Homo sapiens: one gene and its partners. The protein of the gene in region 2 purifies or fractionates together with the protein of the main gene of each other region. This does not show direct contact. Each region holds a gene or a part of one and is shown on either strand. Other genes may lie near its edges.

Evidence for each region.
Region 1: the proteins of PPIL1 (region 2) and GPALPP1 purify together in Homo sapiens (affinity purification with mass spectrometry; 2 studies listed by BioGRID and IntAct, with this or other methods). This does not show direct contact.
Region 3: the proteins of PPIL1 (region 2) and DERA purify together in Homo sapiens (affinity purification with mass spectrometry; 2 studies listed by BioGRID and IntAct, with this or other methods). This does not show direct contact.

Annotation. Positions count from the first base shown.
Region 1 is NC_000013.11:44,998,134-45,007,961, forward strand, and holds part of GPALPP1 (GPALPP motifs-containing protein 1), read left to right. Parts: intron 1-4,016; exon of another isoform or gene 4,017-4,314; intron 4,315-6,171; coding exon 6,172-6,304; intron 6,305-8,068; coding exon 8,069-8,170; intron 8,171-9,828.
Region 2 is NC_000006.12:36,870,220-36,881,034, reverse strand, and holds the start of PPIL1 (peptidyl-prolyl cis-trans isomerase-like 1), read left to right. Parts: upstream 1-6,231; 5' UTR 6,232-6,262; coding exon 6,263-6,318; intron 6,319-9,067; exon of another isoform or gene 9,068-9,162; coding exon 9,163-9,317; intron 9,318-10,815. UniProt on the Homo sapiens protein: Involved in pre-mRNA splicing as component of the spliceosome. PPIases accelerate the folding of proteins. Catalyzes the cis-trans isomerization of proline imidic peptide bonds in oligopeptides. Catalyzes prolyl peptide bond isomerization in CDC40/PRP17.
Region 3 is NC_000012.12:15,976,017-15,985,844, forward strand, and holds part of DERA (deoxyribose-phosphate aldolase), read left to right. Parts: intron 1-6,291; coding exon 6,292-6,420; intron 6,421-9,828. UniProt on the Homo sapiens protein: Catalyzes a reversible aldol reaction between acetaldehyde and D-glyceraldehyde 3-phosphate to generate 2-deoxy-D-ribose 5-phosphate. Participates in stress granule (SG) assembly.

The DNA of each region.
Region 1 (9,828 bases), on a different chromosome or scaffold from region 2:
TACTGTATCTAAAAACTATCCTAAATCCACGCCAAGCTTTTTGTCTGCCCTTTGGTAACAATAGAAGAGGTATACTGCTTCCTTCTAAAGCTAATCCTTCCATTTTTACTCTGACTCCCTTCCCTGTCCTTAGGGCTGCCTGCCCTTAGCATTTAACCAAAACATTCAAATCTTTCCCATCTTTGAAGAAAACTCTACTTCATATCCCCCTCTAGCTGCATCTTTTTCTTTCTCACTGTCTCTGGGTCTTCTATTTTCTCCTTAACCCATTGCATTTCTGCCCTCACCAGTCCACTGAGACCCTCACCAATTCAAGGCTTCCTTTTCAGTCCTAGTCTTCCTTGACCTCACAGCAACATTTGGCCCCTCTCTATCCTCTCTTGGTTCCAACCATCCTGAACACCTTTCAGTTTTCTAAATGTGATGACTCTTTTGCTTTCAGGCTTTTGCAGATGCTTTTCTTTCTGCCTGGACTACTCTTCGTCCAGTCCCCACCTTCTTTGCCCAGCTAACTCAGGTCCCACCCCTACATCACTGCTTCTAGGAAACATTCTTTGATGTTAACTACCTACTGCCTGTAAAAGATGGGTTGGGTGCCCCTTCTTTATATTTGCATGATTTAACCATGTCATGGGGTCAGCAAACTTTTCTTGTAAAGGACCAGATAGTAAATACAGTTGACCCTGTAGATCTGCAGGTTCTGAGTCTTCAGGTTCAACCAACTCTAGATTGAAAGTACAATATTCAAGGGAAGTGGAACCAAGGCCATAGCCACAGATTTTGGTAGCTGCAAACAGGGGAGTTGGTCCTGGAACCAATCTCCCGAGAATACCGAGGGACAACTGTACTTTTGACTGTAGGTCAGTAGGCAAAATCAAGATTATTGTAAAAGTATGTGTACAACAAGAAGGAAGCAAACTTCACAAAATTTTATTGTTGCAATCTAAAACATAATACCATATAATTTTTTTGTAATACAGGTCTACTAATGAGAAGAACAGAATTGGTTTTGGGGGAGTAACATTTCATTTCATCGGAGTTCAAGTTAGCATTCCTAGTCATCAGAATCAGTTGTGGATGTTCATCTGTTAATGCTGATCTGTAATGAGATTTTTATGTATTATACTGAGTTCATTTTTTTATATGCATATCACAATTCTGTGTGATATGAAAGGGAAATAAGTGAAATATAAGGAACGCGTAACTCCTGTTCTCATGGAATTTATAATCTATTTGGAAAATTATCATTGCAATAGGAGAGCCTCCTTAATGACGACAAGCATCACTGCTTTAGGAGAGATATGGAATAGTTCATTACATGTTCCCAAAATAATTTTTTGAGATTATTCATAGTTCAGAAGGATATCTATAAAAAAGTGAAGCCAGACATGTCCTTACTTTTATTAGGGGGTCTGTATTGTGGCGTATACTGACTGACACTTTTAATATTCTTCTCTTTTTTCTTGAGACAGAGTCTCACTCTGTCACCAGACTGGAGTGCAGTGGCGTGATCTTGGCTCACAGCAACCTCCGCCTCCCGGGTTCAAGTGATTCTCCTGCCTCAGCCTCCTGAGTAGCTGGGACTACAAGCATGTGCCACCACGCCCAGCTAATTTTGGTATTTTTAGTAGAGATGGGGTTTCACCATGTTGGCCAGGATGGTCTTGATCTCTTGACCTCATGATCCGCCTGCCTTGTCCTCCCAAAGTTCTGGGATTACAAGCATGAGCCACTGCGCCTGGCCCCTTTTTTCTTTTTTATATCGCCATCTCAGTATTCTATCATTTCATGATGAAATAGTTGTTTATTTTGAACAACTCAAATAGAAATTAATGGTACTATGTGCTGAATGTTACTTTTTTATACTATTTTTCCGTGATTATTTTTAAAAGGCCAGGTTTTCTTAGATGAGTTTTATCTTCATCTGCTTATTATCTTTTTAAAAAATGTATATCTCGTTTGTTTCTTTAAAAATCCATGGCAATTTTTTAGTTGTAATAGCACCAGGTGTGGTGGCTCATGCCTGTAATCCCAGTGCTTTGGGAGGCCAAGGCAGGAAGATCACTTGAGGCCAAGCGTTCAAGACCAAGCTGGACAACATAGTGAGACCCTGGTCTCAAAAAAATAAATAAAATAAAATTTAAAAATTATCTGTGCATGGTGGCAAACACCTGTAGTCCTAGCCATGCAGGAGGCCGAGATGGGAGGATCGCTTGAGGCCAGGAGTTCAAGGTTACAGTGAGCCATGATCACTGCTTTCTAACCCAGGCAACAGAGCAAGACTAAATAAATAAATGAGTGAATGAATACATAAATAAAAGGTATGTGTGTACGTTATAATACCAAGAACAGCACATATTTAGACCATATTACACATCTAATTGCTTAAAATATATAAAAGAATAATAAAATTTTTTCTTGATACAAACCTATCCAAAATTGGCCAATAGTATACAATTGATAAATTACATGGATAGCAGTCACATATAAGAAGAGAAAGAAGCAGAAGAGGAAAAAACATATCTTCCCTCTTTAATGTACTTAGAATCAAGAAGATGAAAAGAGCCAATCACTCCTGTGGGGTCACACATGAGGTTAGAGGTCACATATAGTCTCTAAATTATAAATAAATTGGGGAACACTTACATACTAAGACATTAAGTCTTCTTTAGTAAACCCTAAACAGCAGTTGGAGATAGGAATCCCATCCATGATGCTTGATGTTTTCCTTTTTGCTGTAACGCAGCATGCCTTAGAGTTATTCTTTTCTAAGGCATGTTATTACCTGTTCTATAGTAATGCACCAAGAGAGATAGGAAAAATTTTTTTGAAATAGGCCAATGATTCCAAAACTAGCCTTAGTTTCTCCCCTGAGCTTTACACTGTAATAATGTTTGGCTATGTCCCCACCCAAATCTCATCTTGAATTATAGTTTCCATAATCCCTACATGTTGTGGGAGGGACCTGGTGGGAGGTAACTGAATCATGGTGGTGGTTACCCTCATGCTGTTCTCGTGATAGTGAGTTCTCATGAGATCTGATAGTTTTATAAGGGGCTTCTCCCCCTTTCTCTCTGCACTTCTCCTTCCTCCTGCCATGTGAAGAAGGATGTGTTTGCTTCCCCTTCCACCATAATTGTACGTTTCCTGAGGCCTCCACAACCATGCTGAACTGTGGCTCAATTAAACCTCTTTCCTTTATAAATTACTCAGTCTCAGGTATTTCTTCATAGCAGCATGAGAACGGACTTACACACCCTATACACCCTAGTATGCCCAAGTACCACTGATAGCACCACCTAAATTTTTAAGGCTGTATGAAACTTAAAATGTGAAAAACAAACTCTCAACTCTCCCCTCCCAGCCTATTTTCTTCCCAGCCTTCTCCATATTAGAGAATACCATTGCCCTTCACCTGCCTAGCTAGTCAGGCACAAAACCTAAGACCTATCCTTGGTTCCTTTTTTTTTTCTTCTCACCTCTAACATCCAAACCATTAGCAGTCCTCTTTGCCCTTACATCAGAGTATGTTGCAAATCAAACCTTTTTTTTTTCTTTCTTTTTTTTAGATGGAGTCTTGCTCTGTCGCACAGGCTGGAGTGCAATGGCGTGATCTTGGCTCACTGCAACCTCCACTGCCAGAATTCAAGCAATTCACCTGCCTCAGCCTCCTGAGTAGCTGGGATTACAGACGCACACCACCATGCCCAGCTAATTTTGTATTTTTAGTAGAGACAGGGTTTCACCATGTTGCCCAGGCTGGTCCCGAACTCCTGACCTCGGGTGATCCGCCCACCTCGGCCTCCCAAAGTGCTGGGATTACAGGCGTGAGCCACCACACCTGGCCCACACCATTTTTTATCAGCTTTCTAATGCATATCCCCTGTTGCTGATCTCTCTTGTCTATTGTCCACAAGCTGACAGTTTTTTGTTTGTTTGTTTGGTAATTCATATCATGTCTGTCCTGACCCACAACCTCCCAATGACTGCCTGTTGTAATTAAAATCCAAACTCCTGCTGGATGTGGTGGTGCATGCCTGTAGTCCCAGGTACTCAGGAAGCTGAGGCAAGAGGATCGCTTGAGTCCAGGAGTTCTGGGCTGTAGTGCGCTATGCATTCTGGTATCCACACTAAGTTCAACATCAGTATGGTGACCTCCGGGAGTGAAGGACCACCAGATTGCCCTAAGGAGGGGTGAACCAGCCCAGGTCGGAAACAAAGCATGTGAAAACTCTGGTGCTGATCAGCAGTGGGATCGCACCTGTGAAAAGCCACTGCACTTCAACCTGGACAACACAGTGAGATCTCGCCTCTTAGGGAAAGGGAACAGAAAAGGGAAAGGGAAAGAGAAGTCCAAACTCCTTATTGTAGCCTGTACTAGCATTTATTGAGCACTTGCTATATGCCAAAGACTTTGTTAGGTGTTTTGCATATATTAACTGATATAATCTTCACAACAGTCCTGTGAGGTTGAAACTATTATTAACCTCATTTTACAAAGCAAGAGTGTAATAGGAAGGTTAAGTAACTTATCCAAATCACACAGCTAGTAAGTGGCCAACCTGGAATTCAAAGCACAGAGTCTGCCTCCAAAGCAAGAGTCTGGCCCCTTTATACCATCCAACTTGATGTCGTCATTTTGCTTTTCTTTAGCCACACTGGCCTTTTTATTCCTCAAGCACATCAGGCTTGCTCCCTGCATAGGAGTTGTGCACTGGCTGTTCCTCTGTCATCTCATCATTTAAGTCTCCATTCAAATGTCTTTTTCTCAGAGAGATTTTTGCCTTACCACTGTCTTTAAAATTACCCTCCCACATATACAGTGTCACCTTTTTCCTATTTTCATAGTAGCATTTACACTATCTGAATTGATCTTAATTCTTTTAATGTTTGTTTCTCTAGAAGTATTTACTTAATAACTGTTGTTGGATGGATGGTTGCTGACTATTGAGTATTGGCTAGTATAGTGGTTAAGGATATAGGCTTTGAAATCAGACTCCTGGGTTCATGTCACAGCCCCACTACTTAGTTGTATGAAGTTAGGCAAGTCACTTAACAATTCTTGGCCTCAGTTTCTCCATATGTAAAATAGAAATAATATCTCCCTTATAGGATTGTTATCAGAATTAAATAGAATAATGTGTATGTCTCTTAAAACAATTCATAACACCTAAGAACTCAAACCATGTTATTTGTTATTTATTTATTACACTTAAGTTTTTGTAGTAACAAATATTACTATTACTATAATATTGAATGAATGGCATACCCAGAATACTCTTTGGAAAATCATGTTTCCAGGCCCTCCTCCAGGCCAACTGGGTTAGAATATCTGAGAAAAGGGCCCATGAATCTTTTAAAAATACATAGATTTTAGGGAGTCTGATAAATATCCAACCTTGGGAACTATGATAGTAGGCTTTTAGCATCACTATTTAGGATCAACCTGGACAGTTGTGTCTGTGTGACATCATCAGTGACATCATGACACTGCAGTGACACCATATAGTAATTTGTAATTTTGCTGAGATGTAAAGTGAGAGCAAGTCATTCTGATAAGTGGACCTAGAAGACCCTTACCACTCTCCCTAACATCCCCATTACAGTGCAGCCTCATTCTCTTCCCTGTATCTCTGTTGGCAAGCAGTAAAACTTAGAGTGACTCTAATTTTATTTCTGCTTGGAAAATCATCTCAAAAAGAAAACTAACCAAGAAATATGGGGATGCCAGGAAAGATTTTTTTTTTTTAAGTAGTGGTTCTACCGTAAACTGTAAGAAAAAAAAAAATCATGAAGCCATTGGGGTTTTTTTTTGTTTGTTTGTTTGTTTTTTTGTTTTTTTTGGCAGGTGCACCAACCAATGCAAAAACTGCACATTATCAAGGAAATTACATGCTATTGCTATATCTATAAGTTCGGGTTTATAAGTTCAGATATTAACAAAGCTTTTGTGAATCTCATGAAAGAGATTGTGTAAGACATGATTTCTGCCTTCCTAGAGCTGGAAAGACAAAACCACTGTACACAAACAACAGCAATTGAGATTAAAGTGAATAATAAATGATAGACAGCCAGTGCTGTTTATTTCAGAAAAGAAAGTGAAAAATATCAGCTAGAAGGGTTCATTGAAACAGTAGTGGCTAGTGATGACAAACAACAAGTGTTCTTTAGTTGCAGGACCAGCTCTGCCCCCTAATTATAAAAGCAGTAGTTCAGATTCATCAGACAGCGATGAAGACAGTAGTTCTTTGTACGAAGAAGGAAATCAAGAATCTGAAGAAGATGACAGTGGTCCAACTGCAAGGTCAGTCATTTAATTAAATTAAATGATAGACCAAACTTCAGAGCTAGTATAAGTTGGCTGGAACAGATAGCTAGTAAGGGGATATCATATTTCCATTTATACAGCACAGGGAGAAATCATTTTGTGTGGCATTTCATCCTGAATTATACCTTTTACAAAGAAATTTATTCTAGTAGTTTGCAGCTATAGAGATATCTAGAATTTCAATATATATGTATATTTTTTCCTGAGACAGGGGCTCACTCTGGCGCACATGCTGGAGTGATGTGGCACGATCTTGGCTCACTGCAGCCTCTGCCTCCCAAGCTCAAGCGATCCTCCCACCTCAGTCTTCTGAGAAGCTGGAACCACAGGTGCCCGCAAATTTTTGTATTTTTTGTAGATTTTTTGGTATTTTTTGTAGAGATGGGGTTTCATCATGTTGCCCAGGCTGGTCTCAAACTCCTGGACTCAAGTGATCTGCCCGCCTCAGCCTCAGAAAGTGCTGGGATTACAAGCATGAGCCACCACACCAGCCAATAAAATTCTTACATAAATGATTTTTCTTAAGATGTCATTGAAGTGCCAAAATAGGCTACATAAACCATAGAATTTCTTATTAAAATTATATATGCAGTGTATGTTTTCTTTAAATAAACTAATGGTTTTCTTTTTTTTTTTTTTTTTTTTTTTTTTTTTTGAGATGAAGTCTCACTCTGTAGCCCAGACTGGAATCCGGTGGCACGATCTCAGCTCACTGTAGCCTCTGCCTCCTAAGTTCAAGTGGTTCTCCTGTCTCAGTCTCCCAAGTAGCTGGAACTACAGGTGTGTGCCACCATACCTGGCTAATTTTTGGATTTTTTAGTAGAGACAGGGTTTCACCATGTTGGCCAGGCTGGTCTTGAACTCCTGACCCCAAGTGATCTGCCCGCCTCGGCCTTTTAAGGTGCTGGGATTACAGGCATGAGCCACTGTGCCCAGCTGAATGATTTTCCTCTAATCTGGCCTTACCCACTATGAGTCTATGTAAATGAGAAGTCAAATCTTTGTTTATTATTGAGTAACAAGCTTTTTTGATTCATTTTAAATATTATCAGGTGGAAATAGCAACTTAAAACCCTTCCTTAGATGAGAATAAAAGTCACAGTCATAAACTTTTTACTGAGAAACATCTGACCAATAGACTTTGAAACTGCATTGAGGGGAATCTTTAATACCACAGAAAATATAGAATAGTGATATATTACTGCTGTAAAGAAATAACCAATCTGTATTTTAGGCCAAAAATAAATTCCAGGAAAAGACTAGTTACGAACTATTGTCGTAGGCCAGGTGCAGTGGCTCACGCCTGTAATCCCAGCACTTTGGAAGGCCAAGGTGGGGAGATCACTTGAGGTCAGGAGTTCGAGACCAGCCTGGCCAACATGGTGAAACCCCGTCTCTACTAAAAAATACAAAAATTAGCTGGGCGTGGTGGCGCTTCCCTGTAATCCCAGCTACTTGGGAGGCTGAGGCAGGAGAATTGCTTGAACCTAGGAGTGGGAGGTTCCAGTGAGCCAACATCACGCCACTGCACTCCAGCCTGGGCAACAAGGCAAGACTTCCTCTCAAAAAATAAAAAAAAAAAAAGAACTATCGTAGTATCCAGTTTTTATTTGGCAGGATTAATTTATTGTTGCAGTGTTTATACAACTAGATTTAATGCTTTTTTAAAAAAAATTAAAATGTGCTTTTGTGAAAAAAATTTTGACATATATGCATAAAGTTATACTACTATGTTTTCAGAAAACAGAGGAAAAATCAGGATGATGACGATGATGATGATGATGGGTTTTTTGGACCAGCCCTTCCTCCTGGATTTAAAAAGCAGGATGATTCTCCTCCAAGGTGATAATGTGTAATATTTTAGGCCAGTCTTTCTTTAAATATTTTAACTAATGAATCTTTAATGAATTAAAGAATTGTCTGAAATTATGTTTTAACTGAAATATTTATATAACATTTTGAAATGGGTCATTCACCAGGAAAAGAAGTTGTTTCCTACAATAAAAATAATTATTTACATGTTTATGACACTTTCATAGTTTACAAAAAACTTCCACATCTGTTATTTGATATTCACAAAAGTGTTTTGTGGTAAACGAGGTGGATCACCCCTCTCCCCACTTTATAAACAGATAAGGTCACACACATAGTAGCAGACCTGGAGCTAGAATCTTGATGTTGTGACTTTTAATTCAGTTGTTTTCTTAATTATTTATCAATAGAAGAAACACATCCCCATGTGCCATGTTAGACAATTGGACTAACTTCTCTGAATCTTAAATTTGTTATCTGTAAGCTAGGATAACAGCATGTACTTTACAGAATTGTGATGATTGAGGTTTCATAGTTACATACCTTGACTTTGTGTGTGGGTGTTTAATTTATATGGAGCCTGGCACAGAGTAAGTATATAGTAAATATTTATTCCTGTCTTCTTCCCAGAATTGTAAAATTTTTAAATGCCAAATATAAGATCGCACATCAAATTGTTTATAATTCATAATACTGTATACCAATATGCAAGAACAAGCAGAAAAGGCTTTTTATTTTATATTCAAAGTTTATAATCACATTTGGCAGCTCCTAACTTCCATTAACTTTAGTTGTTTCAGATATACAGGGATAGGCAATCTACAGTCCCCAAACTAAAAATGATTTTTGCATTTTTGAGAGTAGCTGAAAAAACAAAGACAGATATGCCACAGAGACCCACATGTGGCTCTCAAAGCCTAAGAGTTACTATCTAGCCCTTTATAGAAAGTTTGCTGACCCCTAGGATGTAACATTCCTTTTAAGAAAACATATTACTTAAATGTATACCAATTTTATTCTTAAGAATATTATTTTGGCAATAATAAAATGTATGTGTAAAATAAACAGCTGGCATTATATATTGGAGTTAGAAACCTTTTATAGTATCATAACATGCCATGGTTTTATTCCTTTACTATGTTTTATGATTTTATATACCAGTAATTTTATCACCACCAATCCCCTGAGGCCAGAAAGTTAAGCTATAATTGCATTTGTAGATTGCTAAAAATTGTACTCAGAAAAAACCTATGCTGTACTCATAGCTTATAAATGATACCTAATTTTATCTTTTTAACAGTGCCAAACTTCCCTGTCTTTCATAAGCAAATTGTTCTGCTCAAAGAAGTTTCATGAATCAAGACAAGAGATTATTAAATGGTCAGGATGGGAACCCAGACTTTCTGACTGTCAGTACTGTTATTTCCCCTGCCAGGATGCCTGTCTGTGGGGTTCTGATAGAACATGGTGCAACCTGGAAATTTTAGCTTAGGACTTCAGTGCCATCTGGGTTGGTAACACTGGCACAGTGACAACTATGGAAAAAACATTTGTACAAAAGCAAGGATGAAGAATCTTAAAAGTGTGAAAGAGAGCATTTTTTTATTTTTTATTTTTATCTTTTTAATTTTTTCCTTCATAAAGTAAGGCTGTCTCCTTTTAAGACCCAGTGTTAAGGCAAGTCTCTC
Region 2 (10,815 bases):
CTAGCTATAAAGCAGGCAGGCTGTACAGTTAAGAGTCATGGTGGCATTTTATGAAGCATTTAGGAGGCCTAATCACCTTAAATTGTACAACATGTCTGGCATGAATTCCTTTTCATAAATTTTTTCACAACTTACACAGACTATGTGTGACATGTTTAGACTTTCTGACTTGCCCTAAACATCCCTCTTTTTAAACAACCAGTCATTTTACTTTAGGACAAGAATTTACCATACAACATCCTTTCTTAATGAAATCTATTTTCTTTATAGCCTTTGTATAGCTAGGGGGCATGGCTAATTCCATATATCCCCAGGCCTTATTTAGAATTTAATGTCTCCAAAATAAATTGAACAATTTTCAAAAGTCAAAGCAGTTTATGACCTTGAAGCATATAGCAAAGCTAATATCTGACCTGCATAATTTAGACAAAATGTCTTTATCAATAATATTTAAAGTTGTTTTTATTTCCCAAAGATTACTAAAGTTACATGAACCAAGAGGCATTACAGTTTTTATTTTGCTTTCAAAATATTTAAGTGCTTATTTTTGTTTAAGCCAATTAATTTGAGCTCTTTTATATAAACATTACACACAATACATATATAATTAGACAGACAGGCAGAAGAAGATTACTATAGTAGTTGTAAGATTTTTCTTTTGCCAGTTTTTAAGTTTCTTAATTGGTTATTGGCTTTATGGTGGAGTCCTTGGAGGAACAGGGCCAGGAAAAGGGTTTCTGGTGCCTCCTGTTTTTCCCATGGATTCCAGGCCATTAGAGCCTGAATATTCATTTTTTAATTAACCTGACTTTTAAGCATAGCACTCTTTAATAAAGTCCTTTTAAATTTCTTATTACTGATTTTACCCAGGCCAAATGGCTGATATTTCTGGCTTTTGAACTTTACCAAAGGTAACTTCCTAGGTGCTCGAGGAAGGAAAATTTAAGATAGTCTGTGGAGGAGAAGAGACTAGAGAAGGTTATGCAGATATTAAATCAGAAATGACTTACTTCCTAAGCAGGGAATGGAACTGGAACCGCCAGTGTGAAAGGCCAGTGAGCCACAGCACAGAGCAGTCTACTGCCCTTCCCAGAAGGAGTCTAGAGTAGTTAATTTTGAGCTTGCAGAGGCTTTTAATGACTCAGGATAATTTTTAGAGCTAACTATGGCATAAACCCTAAAATCCCTGTTCCCTAGAAGGTGGAGACCAAGAGAAAGTACTGCCACGTGGTTACGAGGTCAAGTTCCCAAGGACATAAAACAAGATGGAGACCCCATCCAGTTTTTTTTTTGTGTTTCAGGGACCTGCAGGAAAGTTTGTTATTGACCAGCGAGCTTGTGGGGTCCTAAGCCCGTGTTTTATCCTAAGGTACCCCTTGACCCAGAAAAACGAATTCATAGCACAAATACATCAGTTTAAGACTAACCTCAGAATTTTTTTTGCATTAATCAAAACCTTAGAGAAGAGATAAATAAACAGTGATTTTTACCATTCATTCAACCATTTGCACAGAGAGAGAGAAGCCAAAAATCTGACTGGTAAGAAATTCTTACTCTTTTGCTGGCATGCCAGCCTTCTGGGTTCCCTTTCCCTCAGCGGCCCCAGTGACCCAGCTTGCCACACCATCACACTGGGGGCCAAGCCGCATCATAAAGGAAAAATTTTTTGTTGTTGTTCCGGCCAGAGCAAAATACATGTGATAAAACACAGACATTAGCCACTCTGCTTAGCACTCAATATCAAACTGGCAAGGTTTATATTTGCCCTCAGATGGGCCCCGTTATCTTTAATCCAATGTCTGACTAGGGGTTTCAACACGTGATCTCTGGGCAAGCTGGTTGCCCTGAGTAATAGAAAAGATAAAAAAGGGAAAGGAAAGAGAGATCCGAGAGGGAGCTTACCTGTGATCCCCAGCTGCTGTGAGAGATCAATAGACACAAGTGGATCCTGCAGGTACCTTGCATGTTCACTCAGTGCTCCTGGGGGTCGCTAGAAGCTCCACTTTAGATCCCATTCCTGACACCATCTGATAAAAGAAAAACTTTGGCTGAATTAAGTTTGAAGGAGTTTAATTGAGCAATGAATGATTCGCAAATCGGGCAACTCCCAGAATCACAGCAGATTCACAGAGACTCCAGGGGTGACTCGTGATCAGAACAAATTTATAGACAAAAAGGTAAACTAACGTACAGCAATAGGAAGTGAGGTACAGAAACAGCGAGATTGGTTAAAGCTCAGTGTTTGCCTTATTTGAATGCAATTTGAACATTCGGCAGTCTATGAGTTGTTGAAGTATGGCCGCTGGGATTGGCCAACATTCAGCTATTGTTACAGGTATATACTATTAAGTTAAGTTTTCAAATTTGTCTGACTATAAAGCTAGGTTATAGTTCATCCACAAGGACTCAAATATAGAAGTACAAAGCCCTTCTCAGGCCATATTTAGTTTGCTTTAACACTGTGACAGACTGTACTAAGCACTTTCAATTCATGGAGCCACTTCATCAACCCTATGGCATAAATAGCCCCATAACATCCTCATACAAACAAAACTGAAGTTTATGGAGAGGTTAACTTGCTCAAGATTTTACAGATAAGGAATGGAAGGATCAGCATTTGAACCCAGACTCCTTAACCTGCCCTGTGTGTAGCGCCAAATCTCTTAACTGCTTTCTACAAGAAATCTGCAAACAAAATACTACTGGGTTCAGACTAATGCTATAGCTACAGAGGTAGTGTGACAGTGACATAAATGTATGAAACCAATGAAACAGAATAGAGAGACCAAAACCAGAAAACACATATATGGACACTTGATTTATGACAAAGAGGTGAAACAGAGGAGTGAGGAAAAGATAATGCTTTCAATCAATGGTGCTGGGTCAATTGTATATCCATATAGAAAAAAATGAAACTTGGCTCCTACCTCATACCATACACCAAGATAAGTTCTAGATGCATTGCAGATCTATATGATAAAAACAAAACAGAATTATAGAGCTGCAATATTGAGATGTCCAATAATGTCTGTCCAACACTGACATGTTCTGTAAGAGAGAAAATGCATATGTTGGACTACATTAAAATTAGAAACTTTCCAGTGTTATATTCTGTCCAGGATATATAAGGAACTTTACAAATAAGAAAACAGCCAAATAGAAAAATAGGTAGAAGATTTGAACACAAAAAGGTATCACAAAGAGGATATCTAAATGGCACACATATGGAAAAAGAATTCAACTTCATTAGTCATTAGTTGTTAGTGAAATTACTACTGAGATATTGTTATAGAGGCTTCAGGATTCCTTAAATGAAAAAGACTAGCAATACTAAGAGTTGGCTTGGAAGCAGAGCAACAGCAATTCTCACAGGCTGCTGGTGCATACATAAATTGCTACAGCCACTGGCCAGGCGTGGTGGCTCATGCCTGTAATCCCAGCACTTTGGGAGGCCAAGGTGGGCAGATCACAAGGTCAAGAGATTGAGACCATCCTGGCCAACATGGTGAAACCCTGTCTCTATTAAAAATACAAAAATTAGCTGGGTGTGGTGGCATGCGCCTGTAGTCCCAGCTACTCGGGAGGCTGAGGCAGGAGAATCGCTTGAACCCACGAGGTGGAGGTTACAGTGAGCTGAGATTGTGCCACTGCACTCCAGCCTGGCGACAGAGTGAGATTGTGTCTCAAAAAAAAACAAAAAATTGCTACAGCCACTTTGCAACAGTCTAGTGTTAACTACTAAATTATACATGTTACCTATGACACAGCAATTCTGCTTCTAGGTATATACTCCCAAAAATTCATGCACAAGTGCACTAAGATACATACACAAAATATCCATCGCAGCACCATTATACATTGTGGTATGTTTGTACAACAGAATACTACACAGCAAGGAAAAATGAAAAATGGCCACTACATACAACATGAATACATCTCACAAACATATTGTTAAGGAAAGGAAGCCAGGCACAAAAAAATACGTACTTTATAACTCCATTTATATAAAATTCAAAAACAGGGAAAACCAATCTATGATATTAGAAGGCAGAAAGTGGTCTACCCTTTGGGAGGAAGGAATGGGTAATGATTAGTAGGGGGGCTTCTGAGGAATTGGAGACATTTTATTTCTTGATTTGATTTGACCCCTCATGGCTTCTGGCTAACTCCAATTTATTTTCTGGATCTCAACCCAGGCTGTCACTCCAGGGGAAATTTTTGACTGTCCAAACCTACTCTGGAGTAACCAGAGCTCAGGGAAAACTGTGTTTCTTCTTCTTCTTCTTCTTCTTCTTTTTTTTTTTTTTTTTGAGATGGAGTTTCACTTTTGTTGTGCAGGGTGGAGTGCAAAGGCAAAATCTCTGCTCACTGCAGCCTCCACCTTCCGTGTTCAAGTGATTCTCCTGCCTCAGCCTCCGAAGTAGCAGGGATTACAGGCATGCACCACTATGCCCAGCTTATTTTGTATTTTTAGTAGAGACAGGGTTTCACCATGTTGGTCAGGTTGGTCTTGAACTCCTGACCTCAGATGATCTGCCCGCCTCGGCCTCCGAAAGTGCCAGATTACAGGTGTCAGCCACTGCACCCAACCTACTGTGTGCTTCTTATTACAGTCCTCATTCCACGCTCCTACAGCTACGTATTTAGTTGCCCATCTCTCCTAGAATGTGAGTTTCTTTAGGGCAGGGCACTGTGTGTGTGAGACTCATCTCTGTCTCCTCAGTGCCAAGTGACTGGTAGGAGCTGCAGTAAAAGATTTAGGAAGAAAGTGATCATGATCTTGGGGGTGGCTTTTCAATATTCAGACATTGGAGCCTGGGAATGGCACATGACTCCCGAGATACACAGTAAAGAACTACATAAAGTCCAGAGAAAGGCAACTTAACAACAGACTAAACAGACCAAGGATTAAGACTTTTTCATCCAGCTCAAGGGCCACAAGGTGGGCATGAACTTGAAACTGCAGGAGGTGTAAAAATTATACTTTAGCATTTATCAGTTTAAAATGTAGTGTTCCGTTCATTATTCATTCAGCAAAGCTGAGCACCCTGTGCTCTGTACTGTGCAAGAAGAGCACAAAGATGAAGGAGGCCCAGCTCCTCTCTCAAGGAGCTGTCTAGTTTATCTTTACAACCTTGTACATCCTTATTCCTTGTTGACAATTAGGGACATTACAGTTGAACTGTCGTTAAGAGCACAAGTGCACCAGCTGTAGTACTTTAAGCAAGTTATTTAATCTGTAAGGCTCAGCTTCCTCAAAGTAAAATGGGAATAGTAATATCTACCTTGTGGGATTTTGAAGATTAAGCGTGAAAATACGCAATAAAATGCTTAGCTTGATGCCTGGCACATGGTAAACATTCAACCATCATTATTAAGTGGTGTGCAAAGCATTTACAGCGTTAAGTTTAGGTACTCTATTTCATTTTTGTCCTCCCTCCAAACATTATAGCTCCTCTAATTTGCTTCTGTTCCTCGCGCCCTGCGCAAACCCTCCTAACAACTTTCAGGTACCATCTATCCCAGCCAATGTTAAGCCTTGTTCTTGCTCTGATCCGTTTGTCCTGTTTTCTCCTGTCTCTTCCTTTCTTTATCTCCTATTTTCTTCCTGCCCCTTCCCTCTCTTTTCTCCTCAGACTCCTCGTCTTTGGATTCTGCAGGCTCAGATTTGCTTTATGACTATGGAAAAACAAGTATTAACTGCCGAGTCTATTTTCAGATCTGAAAAATGGTAATAATACTATCTACTTATAGAATTGTTTTGTGGAGTAGATGAGATAAGAAAGTGCAAGCACTGTGTACATCGTACAGCGCCTTACAAAAATTCTTTACTGGCATCTCTAAACTACCCTCTTTCATTCTCTGCCTCCCCTTCCCGTCCCTGCCCAATTGTGAGACTAAGAAATTCTTCGAATTTAATATTAGGACATAACTCCAACCAGAGCGCAGCTTTTCTGGTTGTTCCCGCCTTCCATGCCTAAACGAACCAATCAGATCGCCCAGAGTGGCGCGGTATCGCCACTTGGAGACCACCGCGAATGAAGTTTGCATTTTCCTCTGTTCTTGAGCCCAGCTTCTTCTCGTCTCCCACCCCAGCTTCCCGGCATTGGAAGAAGGGACCGTCCTCTTCCTTGTCTTGGCCACCCAAATCCTGGTATCGAAAGGGTTGAACGGACCGGAAGTGTGCAGCAGCGACGGGTCCCCAGCTAATCGACGCCGGAAGTAGCAATTACTAGACAAGCATTCCGCCGCCGGCTTCGCTATGGCGGCAATTCCCCCAGATTCCTGGCAGCCACCCAACGTTTACTTGGAGACCAGGTGAGGGGGTTCGGGCGTCTGGGGCTGGCAGAGGAGACGCGGAGCCCGGGCCTCACCACGGGTCTGCGTTCCTGGCGCGTTCCTCCGGGAGGCCGGCCTCCACGTGGAGGGGCGTGGAGCAGCGGCCGAGACGGCCCCCAGAGGGTTGAGAGGGGACCGCCATCGCCCGCGTCCAAGCTCCGCGGGGTCTTGTGCTGAGGTCTCAGCAATAGCTGCCTGATTGTCCTCCTTCCCCCAGTCCGCTCATTCATTCATTCATTCATTCAACAAACGTGTAATGAGTCCGCAAGCCAGGCATATGGAATATGAGTTCTGAGGATACAGAGGTAGATAAAACACAGACAGCCCTGCCTTTAGGAGCTTACGGTATAATGAAAGAGACAGACATGTAAACATTACGTGATAAGTAATACAGTTGTAGAAACAAATTCCAGTAAAATACAGGAAGAAGCACATTTTCCCCACTATCAAAGAGTGATGTGGTAACCAACCTGCTGGCGCCATGCCCCGCTGTATGTCATCTCATTTAGTTTAATCTTAGCAACTCAAATCATGAAGGTATTATTTAACTTTCTCCCTTTCAATATTAGCAGGAGGAAACGCCGGAATTTACAGCTTAAAGCCTTGACCAAAGCCACACAGCTAGTAACTGGAAGAACCTCGTTTGGAGCCTGGTGTGCTCGTCTCACCTTGCTAGATCCTTTAGCTCTATTCATTCCATTGCCTCTTTGGAAAAAGCTCAAAGTGATCTTTACAAAGTAGGACAAGGAAGGGATCCTGCTCAAAAAACCTTTAATAACGTCTTGCTGCTATAACAGTATAAAGTAAAAACGTATTAATCCTGACATTCAAGGTGATTTTTTTCATCTGGCCCTTGTCTACCTGCCATTCTCCCCTCAACAGCCAGGGACCAGCCAAGGTCCTCTGCCTTTCTGTTCTTGCCCATTGCTGCTTTCAGCTAAAGCAGAGTTCTGTCAGTCCTCTCTCTATTTGCTCATGCTGTTCATTTCATGCTCCCTGGCCATCTTCCCCACCTTATATGGCAAAATTCTACATCTTCAGGCTCCAACCTGTAATTTCTGAATTCTCCTGTTGGTATTTTTTAAAGTTACAAAATAAATTGTTAAATCCAAGCAATGTAGACATACAGAGTAAGAAGTGAAAGTCACCTCCTTCCTGAAAACACCATCAACAGTTTGTTGGATGATTGTCCAGACTTTTTTCTATGTACATATAAACCTCTCTCATGTTTTTTTAACAAAAAAATGGGATCATATGATCATACTGTATGTATGTTTTTTCTGTAACTTGGTTTTCTTTCACTCAGTAATTCAGGTAGCTGCCCATAGTATGGATAGTTGATATTTTAGGCATTTCCTATTTCAAGGACATTTAAGTTGCTTCCTTTTTTTTTGGCTATGACAAATACTGAGATGAACATCCTTGCACATATTGTATCCTTAGGCACTTTTGTATATTTTCCTAGAGGATACTTGGAAGTTGAAATTACTGAGGTATGCACATTTCAGAATTGTATACGTACTTCCTGATTGTCTTTCCAAAAGGCTACTTTCTGTATTTTGAAAATATCCTCCAGAATGTAAGCTTCATGAGGGAAAGAGTACCACACACAGAGTAACTGTCAATCTGTGTTGAATGGGAGCAGTGTGAAAGATGAATTGGATGAATTTCAGGCAGAAAGGCTGTTAGCTATTTTCTAGCACACTCCTCATATACTTATAGAGTGTTTACACTGTGCAAGGCACTGGGTATCCAGACTATACAGAGTTGACTCAATTCTCACATCTGGCCAGGTGCCATAGCTCACATCTGTAATCCAGCACTTTGGGAGGCCAAGGCAGGTAGATTGCTTGAGCCCAGGAGTTCAAGACAAGCCCGGGCAACATGGTGAAACCCCATCTCTACAAAAAAATACAACAAATTAGCTGAGCTTGGTGATGCATGCCTGTAGTCCCAGCTACTCAGGAGGCTGAGGTGAGAGGATCACTTGAGCCCGGGAGGTGGAGGTTGCGATAAGCTGAGATTGTGCCACTGCACTGTAACCTGGGTGACAGAGGAGACCCTTTCTCAAAAAAAAAAAAATTGTCACATCCTTGGAGCTTAAAGTCTAGGTATGTGCTGGAGTAGAGGGGAAGGCACTCGTCCTTTCTCTTGCCTCTTCCTTATCTTTTAGTAGTACTGGTGAGGAAAAAGCACTCATCCTATTGGGTAGGTGCAAAGATTCAAAGTTACCAGGTTTTGCCTTTGTTATACTCCCTCCCAAACAAACACAAACTGTACCTTTTATTGAAATTTTTTGAATAGGTAATGTATTTACATGGATCAAAAATACAAAAGTTTTTAAAAGGTATTCATTAAACATCTTCCTATTTTCCATCTACCCAGTCCCTACCCCCACCCAGAAACTTCTAAATAAATATGAACTCCTGATATTTTAATGTCTCTTTTTTTAAAAAATTAAAAATTAAGTGTAAGAATTTTTTTCCTAATTTAGGGGTTGGTTATATTGGTTTCAGATAATCAGATATAGCTATATATATATACATATGTATATATGTATAGTATTAGAATTTTGAGTTCTCCATGCTTGTTATTTTGCTGAAAAGAAGTACCCAGAACACCTGCGTGTTTTACTCAAAAAAGATAATGGGTGTTTATGTTACTTGCATTGTGGTGTTTTCCTTTGCTGAGCATGAAATCCAGTGGTTATCACAATTTCATGACTTACAAGCTTGAAAATCAAGAGTCCTGGAGCAGTTCCATAATACTCCTGTCTGCCCTGACCTTTTTGTTTACTGGAGCTGTTGTCCTCTCCCTCTGCAGCATGGGAATCATTGTGCTGGAGCTGTACTGGAAGCATGCTCCAAAGACCTGTAAGAACTTTGCTGAGTTGGCTCGTCGAGGTTACTACAATGGCACAAAATTCCACAGAATTATCAAAGACTTCATGATCCAAGGAGGTGACCCAACAGGGACAGGTACAGTTAAGCCAACATTAGTTTATGTTTTCTTTTTTTTTTCTCCTTTTCGTCTTTTTTTCTAAAGCCAGCATTAGTTTCTGAAGTCTCTGTCGTAAATAGGTGATAAGGCAGCCAGAGCTCTCTTTTCCACTTACTAAGGTCTGTGTTGGTTGATTCTGGTGACAACGCCTGCCTTCCTCAAACACACATGTGTGGAATTGACCAGAAACCAACCTTTACTCCTAGGCTTGGTAGAGTTTTTCATAACTTACATGTACTGCTCACTAAGAACAAATAATATTTGTCTGAATTATAGTGATGCAAGTAGTCTGATCAATAAGAAGGAAAGACTTTATAATATTTTGAGAATAATAAAATCCTGGGTTCTTTTATCGATTCATTCATTTAACAAATACTGAGTACCTGTTTTGTGTCAGATACTTTTTTAAGCTCTAGGGAGATACCTATAAACAAAGAGACAGAATTATTGCTCTCAATAAAGCAGGAAAAGGGTGTGGGGATGGAATTTTAGTAGAAAAGTCAGGGAACTCCTCTCTGACATTATTGGAGAAGAGATCTGAATGAAGTAAGAAAGTGAACCTTGCAACTGTGGGGAGAACATTTTGGATGGAGGGAAGAGCAAACACAGAGGCCCTGAGGCAGGAACCTGTGCTGGAAATCATAAGATATGATACCTTATAGGGCATGGTAGAGACTGGGTTTTATTCTGAGTAAGATGTGATGTGAGTCATTGGAGAGTTTTGAGCAAAGGAAAGACATGATCTGATCTATGCTTTAAAAGGATCACTCTAGGCTGGGCACGGTGGCTCACGCCTGTAATCCCAGCACTTTGGGAGCCCGAGGCAGTTGGATCATTTGAGGTCAGGAGTTCAAGACCAGCCTGACCAACATGGTGAAACGCTCTGTCTACTAAAATACAAAAATTAGCCGGGCGGGTTGGTGGGCACCTGTAATCTCAGGTTCTTAGTCGGGAGGCTGAGGCAGAAGAATTGCTTGAACCCAGGAGATGGAGGTTGCAGTGAGCCAAGATCGCACCACTGCAGTCCAGCCTGGGTAACAGATTGAGACTCCCTCTCAAATAAATAAATAAATAAAAGGATCACTCTAGCTGCTGTTTAGAGAATAGATGTAGGGGCAAGATGTAAACACTATGTAAATAGTTGTTGTACTGTATTGTTTGGGGAGTAATGACAAGAAAAATAGTTCTATACATGTTCAGTACAGATGCTTCCCCCCAAGATGTTTTCAGTCGCGGTTAGTTGAACCCATGAATGTAGAACCCACATGTAGGGAGGGCCGACTATGCTCATGAGTAAGTAGTTGGATAGGAATATGGGGTTCAGGGAAAGACCTGGTATGGAGGTATTAATTTGGGAGTTACTGGCATTTAGATGGGGTTTATTAGTGAACTGGTGGAACCCTTACTCATTTCAAGGGCCCTTGCTTCTCAGTCTGCTTCTTCTCTGCTAATTTCTGCTCGTTTGCCTTTAAACAA
Region 3 (9,828 bases), on a different chromosome or scaffold from region 2:
ACACATATACACAGCACACACATAGAAACACACATTCATTTTTATTTATTTATATATCAGTCTATAAATCTGTCTTAGAACTTACAACTTCACACTATAACCTCTATTACACTCCAGCATTGCATGGTTTATTCTTACTTTCCCCTTCCATATTTATACCCCTTCTTCCCGTCAGTGAGATATCTTGCTCCCATTATCCATTATCTTCAGTATATTCATCTTTTTTATCAATATTTGCCTTTTTATCAATTGCTTTGTGTTTGACAATCTCTAGAACCTGCGGGTTGTCTTCCTGGCTCTACTTGCCAAGTCCTCCCCAACCCCTAGAATTTTCAGTCCTCGCTGGTAAGGGTGACCTTCACTTTCCCCAGAGCTGACTGCACGTCCCCCTCACCTCGCCTCCATCATGTTGCCATGATGTAGCAACATGCAGGCCAAGAATTTCTCTAGGCCCCAGTGACATGGGGGCTAGGTTTCTCTCCACCTTCTTGGCAGTGTGTGGCTGAGAAAATCCCTGCTCTCCCTTGTCTGTGGTTGAGAGCTCCCAAAGATAGAGTTCAGAATCATCTTTCTAAATCAACAAGAGGCTCTTTCATCTTAATTATAACAGCTTAAACTTTTAGAGTAAGTCAACGTTTACCATCATTTTACGTGTGCTTATTATCAAAGGTGGATCTGAAGGAAAAATGATTGATTACCTTCCTAACCGTTTTAATACTTTTATATTTATTGGCAGAATTTGAGAAGGGTTTGAGCTGTAAAAATAAAGCTCTCCTATCTAATCTTGAGGAGAAAAATGAAGCTTGGAGAGGTTCAGTAACTTTCCCAAGTAACACCACTAATCAGCGGCCAAGCAAGGGCTGAGAAGTCCTGATTCAAATATATGAACTCTACTGTAGCACCATACCCTGGTTTTCTTCCCATCCAGGGGGCTAAAAGAGCAATTTAGAGATCATTTTTAGTGTATTATACAAAATTTAGTATCTTATATTTCTGAATTACCTTGGAACAAAGAGCAATTTAGAGATCATTTTTAGTGTATTATACAAAATTTAGTATCTTATGTTTCTGCATTACCTTGGAACTTTTCATTTTATGCAGCTTTTTTCCCCTAGAAGAATGAAAACCAGGTCCTAGGATTCTAATGCCCATCTGTCAAGTGAGTAGTTTGAACTAGAAGGGAGTTGACATCCTTCTACGTTCTGAGTTTTGACGAATCTGTTGCTCGAAGCACTGCAATGTATTTCCCTGGGAATATGTTGTAACTGCAGTGAGTGTACACGTGCATGCATGTGTGTGTGTGCTGGGATAGAGGCAGAAAATTTTGAGGAAATACAGTTTTATTCCACGTATGAAGACATGACTCCTCCTCTCTGTTCTATAACTGACCCACAGTAAGATTTGGAGCAAGTCATTTATCTCTCCACATCTCACTTTTCTTTCTTTCTTTTTTGAGATGGAATTTTGCTCTTATTGCCTAGGCTGGAGTGCAATGGCGCAATCTCAGCTCACTGCAACCTTCGCCTCCCAGGTTCAAGTGATTCTCCTGCCTCAGCCTCCAGAGAGTAGCTGGGATTACAGGCATTTGCCACCATGCCTGGTTAATTTTTTGCATTTTTTTAGTAGAGACGGGGTTTCACCATGTTGGCCAGACTTGTCTCGAACTCCTGACCTCAGGTGATCCACCTGCCTTAGCCTCCCAAAGTGCTGGGATTATAGGCGTGAGCCACTGCACCCAGCCTACATCTCATGCTTCACATGGGAAGTGTGGAGGTAACTGCAAATTGTCTCACGATGGATGGTTAAATAGCGTGTGGAGAACACTGAGCATTTTTGAGGGAAGAGGCTTTGAAAACGTAGGGGATTTCTCATCCTTTAGAGTAATTATTCCTCATGAAAAATTTTTTGGAAAGGGCATCTGTTGAACTTATTGCTTCACTTGTAATTTCCTCTGTGTATGTGGTCTAGCAGCAGTTATAATAACTCCATACCCCACCATTGTCCTTTCCTACCAACATAGGGGAAAACCTGCTCATTCGTTTTTCCATTGTTTGGCTTATTTGTATTGAAAGGAAAGTGTCAGCTGAGTTTGTTAAAGGACATAATTTGAGATTGACTGGGTTACATTTCAGCCATCAAGCCACTTTGATTAGCATATGTCATTCATCTAGTTTCTGAGGTGTCTATCATGGTACTGTCAAAGTCCTCAAAACGACCTAAACACTAATAATGCTTCTTTGTGGTTTCTATGGCTTGTGTTGGAGTGAAGTGGTCTATTTTTTCTTATATGTAAGACTGGCAAATTCTAGTTGTGCTTTCATAAGTATTAGGACAGTGCTTGCTATTTTTTGTTCGTTAAAGTTATTTTTGGGTTTCTGGAAGTGTATAAGGGAAAATATGGGAAGCTAGTATTGAATGATTAACTGCCTACTAAATGCCTGGTTCTATTCTAGCAACATATATTATTTAATCATCACAAAAATATGTGAGCAAACTGAGCCTCCCTAAGTAATTAGGCTTAGAGAAATCGAATAATTCCTAAATGTTTACACAACTAGCAAGTAGCAAAAATGTCTTATCTCAAGAGTCTGTGCTATTCAAAGTAGCATGGGTTCTTAGCTTAAAAACAAACTTGTTTGTGATATATAGTAAGCCGTTTCCCCCAGACTGTTTTTTTAGGGGCCCAAAGAGGTTTTATTTTATGTTCTTCAAGGAACATAGATCATGGTGTCCTCTGCTTTTGTAAGTCCCTCTGTAATCTGAGCCTGATAAGCACTGAATAATAACAGGAACACCATCACTGCTGCCACCAACAACTTTGAAAACAGGAACTGACATTCCTTGAGCATGAACAATGTGCTGGATATTGTCCTTATCTATTCGTGTGTGTTAACCTGTTTGAAAATAACTCCGTGAGGTGTGCATACTTCTATCATTCCCATTTTGTAAATGAGGAACATGGGACAGGTTTAGAGTTAAGTAACTTACCCAAATCAAACAATAAACTAGTAGTAAAGTTGGGGTGTGAATCCATATACTCAGGAGAATCCACATTTTTGTCTACAATACTATACTTCTTCAGTAAATATTCATGAGTTGAAGAAAACCAATTCTGATTAAGTGAAGCTGAAAGGGAATTTATTATATTAGGAAGACATAAAGAAGCTCACTGAATAAGTAGGAAGCCTTGCTTGGAAAAAAAGCAGGACCATGAGGGAATAAGGAGCAGAGAACACAGTCAGATTGTGCCACAGGAAGAGCTTGGGCCCAGGGCCACTGCTGGTGCTGCTCCTACTGGCCAGCACAGGTACCACACTGTTGGCTGGTGGCTGGCCCCTGGGACACTGGACTTTTGGATCTCCTGCTATTGCTGATGCCACAATAATAAAGAAAATATCTAACTATTCTTTCATCTTTGCCTCACTCTTTAAGATTCAAAGGCCTGAGTAGAAGCAATCACTTGATAGAGCCCAGGTCACATTTTAAAAAGACCAGATTTGGTATAACTTTTGATTTAATTGTTCTGATATATTTTGGGCAGAATGGTAACAGAAAGAAATGACAACTTTCCACCTGTTGAACCTTAAAGATTAAGATATTTTCTCAGAAAAACTTGATCCTGTTATGTGGTAAAATAGGCCAGTAAAATGATTTTAGAAATTGGCAGTTAAAGAATGAGAAGACATTGGTTGCATATTTGTAAATCCAGTTATGCTCTAAGTGACCACTTGCAGTTCATTCTGTTTGGATCATGGATTAAAGAGTATAACTTCCAAATGACTGAATCATAAAATACCTCTGGTTTTCGTGGTTAATTTTAACTATACTTCAAGAAATTCACTTGGCATCAGAAGGTAGTACTCTAGAAAAAGGATGGTGTTTTTTTGTTCACAAATATGGTCGTGATCAGTGTTTTAAGAATTTGTTTTACAGGCCAAAGTTCACTTTAACAACTGCTGTAATAAAATACTTTCCAGCCTTGTCTGATGGCTCACTGATTGTAAGCAGTAATCCAACAGAACTTTGGTTACTGGAACTGGGTCAGGCCATGAAATAAGATTTGACTTTTATAACACAACACTTAGTGGAAATTCATTTTACTAGAATTCTGAACTTAATAATTAAACTTTTTGAGTGCTTATAACATGTCAGGCAGTATGCAAAGTACTTTGTATATCTCTCTCTCATTCCTGGTAACCCTGTAAAGTAAATATTATTGACACTTTAAGGATGGAGCTGATGCTGACAGAAATAACTTGCCTAAGGTCCCACAGGAAATGATGGAGTTGGGTTTTAAATCTGCATTTGTCCTACTCTAAAGCCTGCTTTTAATGACAACACTATTTTGTGGAAGAAAATCATTAATTAAATCACAAGTTAACTTGGATTAGCGTTCTTGGATTTTTAGATCAGAAGATTTTCCTTGTCACTTGTTCTTAGAAAACAAGTTTCTTTTTTTAGATTCAATAACTTAAGAAATGTCATTCCATCCAATTCATTCTCTGAATTAAAAGAATATAATTTTTTTTTTCGCTCCATAGTCTATTACTATTTTTAACATTCTTACACAGGTTGTCATATTGGAGGCATAAGTAGGATGATTTTCTCCCAGGTTAGGTAGATGGGCAGGGTAAGGTAGGTGGTGTGGCATCTCAGATCATCCCTAGTACTCAGAACTGCACGTTATTAAGGATCTGTGAAAATAGTCTGTTCTTTATTGAACCTTCTGTGGGTACCATCTCTCAGTGGTAACAAACTTTCTAAACTTACTGAGCATCTTGGAATAGAATATTTGCTTTCATTTCTCTTCATTTTTCACTTCTGAGCTTCAAGTTCATGTTTTCTGTGATTGAGAAGGCAAGCTTTATTTGGCTGTTATAACTTGTGGTTTTAACTGAGACTAATTTTTCATTTTTCTAAATGTACTTTACTAAGCCTGTGAATTATAGAACTCTCATTTTAGCTTTAAGAAATGCTTACCCCAACCCTTATTATGAATGTTTCCCTCCTGCTTGGTTTACTCTGTATGTTTATAAAACTACTTCCTATGGGCCGGGCACCGTGGCTCACACCTGTAATCCCAGCACTTTGGGACGCTGAGGCAGGCGGATTACCAGATCAGGAGATCGAGACCATCCTGGTTAACACGGTGAAACCCCGTCTCTACTAAAACTACAAAAAGTTACCCAGGCGTGGTGGCAGGCGCCTGTAGTCCCAGCTACTCGGGAGGCTGAGGCAGGAGAATGGCGTGAACCCCAGAGGCGGAGGTTGCAGTGAGCTGAGATCACGCCACTGCACTCCAGCCTGGGTGACAGAGCAAGACTCCATCTCAAAAACCAAAAAACAAAAAACAAAAAAACCTACTTCCTATGAAAGATACTCAAATACAAAGGAAAGAAAAAGCCTTGGTCTTGTTACCATGGCAGTAGCCTGAGTTCAAGAAATGATAGTGGCCGGCCTGAAAAAGCCAAAATTCACTAGTATCATTGACAAAAGACTTAAATAATTTTTTAAAGATTTAATACACATGATTTTGGTCTAATTTGCTTACTAAAATCCTGCTACCTTTCATGTAAAATGTTACCTTGAATATGAAATATGAAATAAATCTGGGCCCAATGTGGAACCCTCCAAAGCCAGATGTGGTACTGGGGTCATGGGCTCAGGGGTTAACAGATTTAAGGCAGCATCTCTGAGCCTCCCTGCAGAGATGGCTTTGTACACATGCGTCCAGCACTACCTGGCCAGGCCTAACACTTTTTAGTCAGATATATAAACATACTCTGGCAGGCAGTGGGGCAAGCTGCTGTGTCTTTATTGTCATGAACATAACTCTCAAGAAAGGTGTGCTTTATATCCAACCAAAGAACCTATTACTTGTGAATGGAAGAATTAATAAGAACCTAAGATTTTTTTTTATTACTTTGCAAAGGGGTACACCACTGTATGTATGGTAGCTACATTTGTTTTTTGTTGGAAGCAACCATCATATGGACAAGACAGAAATTATTTATAATTTGCATGTCATTATGATATTTAAAAAGCTCTATGTCTCTGGACCTCAGGCCAGGGCTTAGAAACGGTTTCATGGTAGCAAACTAAGCATTCCTTGTAACAGGATGTGAACTGCAACAGAATGCTCCAGGCAATGTTAAATTGGGGTGATTTTTAGAAAGTGACAAATGTTTTATGTTTCCTAAATGTGAAATGGGTTCCACCAGCTCTAAACGGCTGCCAAGTTATGTTATCACTTGCCTGCTTTGTAACTGCCTCAATTATTTTCTTCCCCAGCCCTGTATGATGAGATTCGTCAGTTTCGCAAGGCCTGTGGGGAGGCTCATCTTAAAACTATATTAGCGACAGGAGAACTTGGAACTCTTACTAATGTCTATAAAGCCAGTATGATAGCAATGATGGCAGGTAAGTGTTTTATGTTCAAATAATGTTTTCTATTGAATTGATGTTTTTAGGAGAAATTAAGTAAGTGAAAGCATTTAGCTATTATTAAACGTGCTAACCACTTGGAATTTTTTTGCGGGAGGAATCGGATATTTTGTAAAAACATGTTCAATGTGAAGTGGTCAAAAACTCCTGGCTTTCTTCCACATTTTTTTTTGTGTGTGTGTGGCATTTCATTGCTGCACTATGCTTATAAGGCAGTAGATGGCTCTCTTGTTAGTGAATTGCCTTCTGTTTTATTCTTTGATTATTCACTCATCAACATATGTTAGACAGGAATTTCTTTGACTTACTCCTCTCTGAATTTAAGCTTTTCATTTATCTCAGAGATATATATCCATACTATCTGAGACAGCCTCTGCTTTTGTTTGTGTTAATGTTTTAAAATTTAGTGCAGTATCATTGATTTTTATACTTTCAAATATAAGTTGACTTATTCTTTATCTCTGTGAACAGCAGGTCTATCCATTTAGACATCCAAGCTTGCAGCCTAGGAGTCATGCTTGGTTCTTTCTTTTTCTCACCTCACATAAATCAGTGAAGAAGCCTTGAGAGTTCTCTCTAGACCTCTTTGCTGTGTCTGACACATCTTCCCTCCATTCTAAGTGCTGCTGTCTTAGGCCACCATCCTCCTCCACAGGGATTACTTCAGCTGTTCCCCTGTCTTCCTGACTTTTGTTCCCCTCCAATCTGTTCTCCACACTGTCACCACAATTTTTTTTTAATGCTAATTTTATTATGGTACTGCTTGCTTAAAATTCCTTCAGTGGTTTCCCTTCATCTTTATGGTAAAGTGTACATTCCTTGATTCTTATTTTAAAAAGGTCCTTCCTAAGACCCTGGCTGTGCCTCTGCTGTGTCATTTTCCCTTCACACCATGTTCTCCAGCCAGGTAGAGTTACTTGCACTTCTCTGCAGATGGTGCCATCCAACCTTTTGAGTCTTTGTACGTTCTGTGCCTCCTGCCCGGAATGCCTTTTGCCCAAATAACTCCACATCTTGGGGTTCAGCACAGGTACCACCTTTTTCAGGAATTATTTCCCCTGACACTGCTTCTCCCCCTGCTGTTTGGCCCATTATCTCCTCTGTGTGTCCCCACGGCATTCAAGTAAAAGCCCTATCATATAACTTATCACATGACATTGTGATTGAGTGTTGAATTTCTAGGTGTCCTTCTAGGGGCCCTATATTTGGATGAAGATACCTGGTTTCTCTGGTCTTGAATCTGGGCCAGCCATATTCTTGTGTACTTCTTGAGTGCTCTGTCAGGCCTAGTAGATCATTCCTTGGAACTCTACTGAAAATCAGCCTACTAGTCAGCAATGGTGCTGTTGCTCTGGGCACAACTGCTGTATCTAGAAAATATCTGCAGTTGTTATCTGAGAGCAAAATCTCAGAAAAACCTAAGGATGAGAAGGGATGGAACACTTTGAACAGTTGTTCATCAGTGATGTTGGCATTTCAAAGATTCACAGTAGAAGACTCACTGTGCCTCTTAGGAACCTGGGAAAAGCCCCTTGGAGGCTACTTGGTGTACAGGTAGCCCCCCTTTATGCTGCTTGCCAGCACAAGTGATTGTTAGCCCAGGTAACAAAGTAAAAGTTTGGAAACGAATAACAGCAGCCACTTATAGGACATACTTTGTGGTAGCCACGCTGTTGGTTGTGCACATGGAGCTGAGATACTCCTCAGGGTCACATCGGAGCCAATCTTGTGATACCTGTTACCCCAGCTGTTATCCTGGTCACAATGAAAGTGTATTCATTCTGGGAGGTCAGCCAACCCTGTCCTACGCACAGCACCTACTACTCATGATACAAATGTGGTATTAGGTCATCACGCTTTGGAAGCTGTGTCCCACCCTCCACCCATCCTGTCCACAGAAAAAAATGTGATTATAAACATGTCCCTTTATTTCTTCCTGTCTGCTTGTTTCTCTGTTCATGTTGTTTATCCACTTCATTTCTTCATTTAAGCAGTGTTTGTTGAGCACTTAGTATGAGTAATAAAACCGTATTCATGGTGTGCTTTACCAGGTACATTGAAACAATATTCCTTCGTCCTCACATCAGTCCTGGAGTGGAAGAAATCTAGGATTGTGTGACTTGTTTAAGGTCACAAAGCTAATAAATAACCTGTATCACTATTTGAACACTCTGGTCTTCTGGCTCCAGATTTATTGCTTTTTCACTTGTAACATGGCTATTTCCCAAGGCACACACTAGATTTTATCATGAATGAAAGACACAATCTTTGTGAGGCATAATATATGAAAGCATGTAGCATACTTCCTGGCCTATAGTTTATACTTCCTACTCTGTTAAGAAGGTATATAATAGAATTGAAGTATTCTTTGATGAACTTGAAATATTTTGAAATATTTTTTATATTCTTGTCCCAATTTTATATGTAACTTGCACAAACTAATCTCCCCAAAAGTAATTTACAAATTTCTGACTAAATTCTGTATTCTACTTCTGTGGTGGTATAAAAAATTTTTTCTTAAATCAATTTCATTGAGGCAGATTTGCATTCAGTAAAATTCAGGTGTTAGATAGACAGTGTGATGAGTTTGGCAGTTTGCAAACACCTGTAACCACTACTCCCTTCAAGACACAGATCATTTCCATCCTCCTAGAAATATCTTTGTGTCCCTTTATAGTCGCCTCCACTCAGCTCACCTGCTGTCCCCGCTGCAACCACTTTTCTACTTTTATCACCATGCTTAGCTTTGCCAGTATTAGAACATTATCTAATCACATAGTGTGAACTCTTGGGTGCTTTGTTTTTGGTTTGTTTTGCCCTCACTAAAAATAAGAGATAAGAGATCTTAAGGAGTTTGCCTAGAAGTATTTCACTGTGTAAGTATACTGAGTTGCTAAAATTGTTGGCATAATGTTGTTTATAATATGTTCTTCCATTCTGATATCTGTGGGATCTGTAGTTATATCTCTTTCTTTATTCTTGATATTGGTCATTTTTGTTTCCTTTCCTGTTGTTGTTTTTGCTTTTCTTTCCTCCTCTGCTTGTTCATGCTAGGGCTTTGCCAATTTTATTAATCTTTTCAGAGAGCCAAGTTTTTATTTTGTTGTTTTTTTTTCATTACTTTTCAGTGAAAGTTATTTTCTAATTTCCCTTGTGATCTCTTTTGTTATTTAGAGTGCTATTTACAATGAGATATTTACTTTCCAAATATTTTGTGCTTTTATGGATATCCTATTGTTGCTTTATAATTTAAGATTTTGTTATCCTCAGAGAGTATCCATTGTAAGAATCTTTTGTCTTTTGGAATTAACAGTTATTTTGTAGCTCATTTTATGGTTGTATTTAGTTATATGCTTCAAGTGCACTTAAAAGAATGTGTATTTC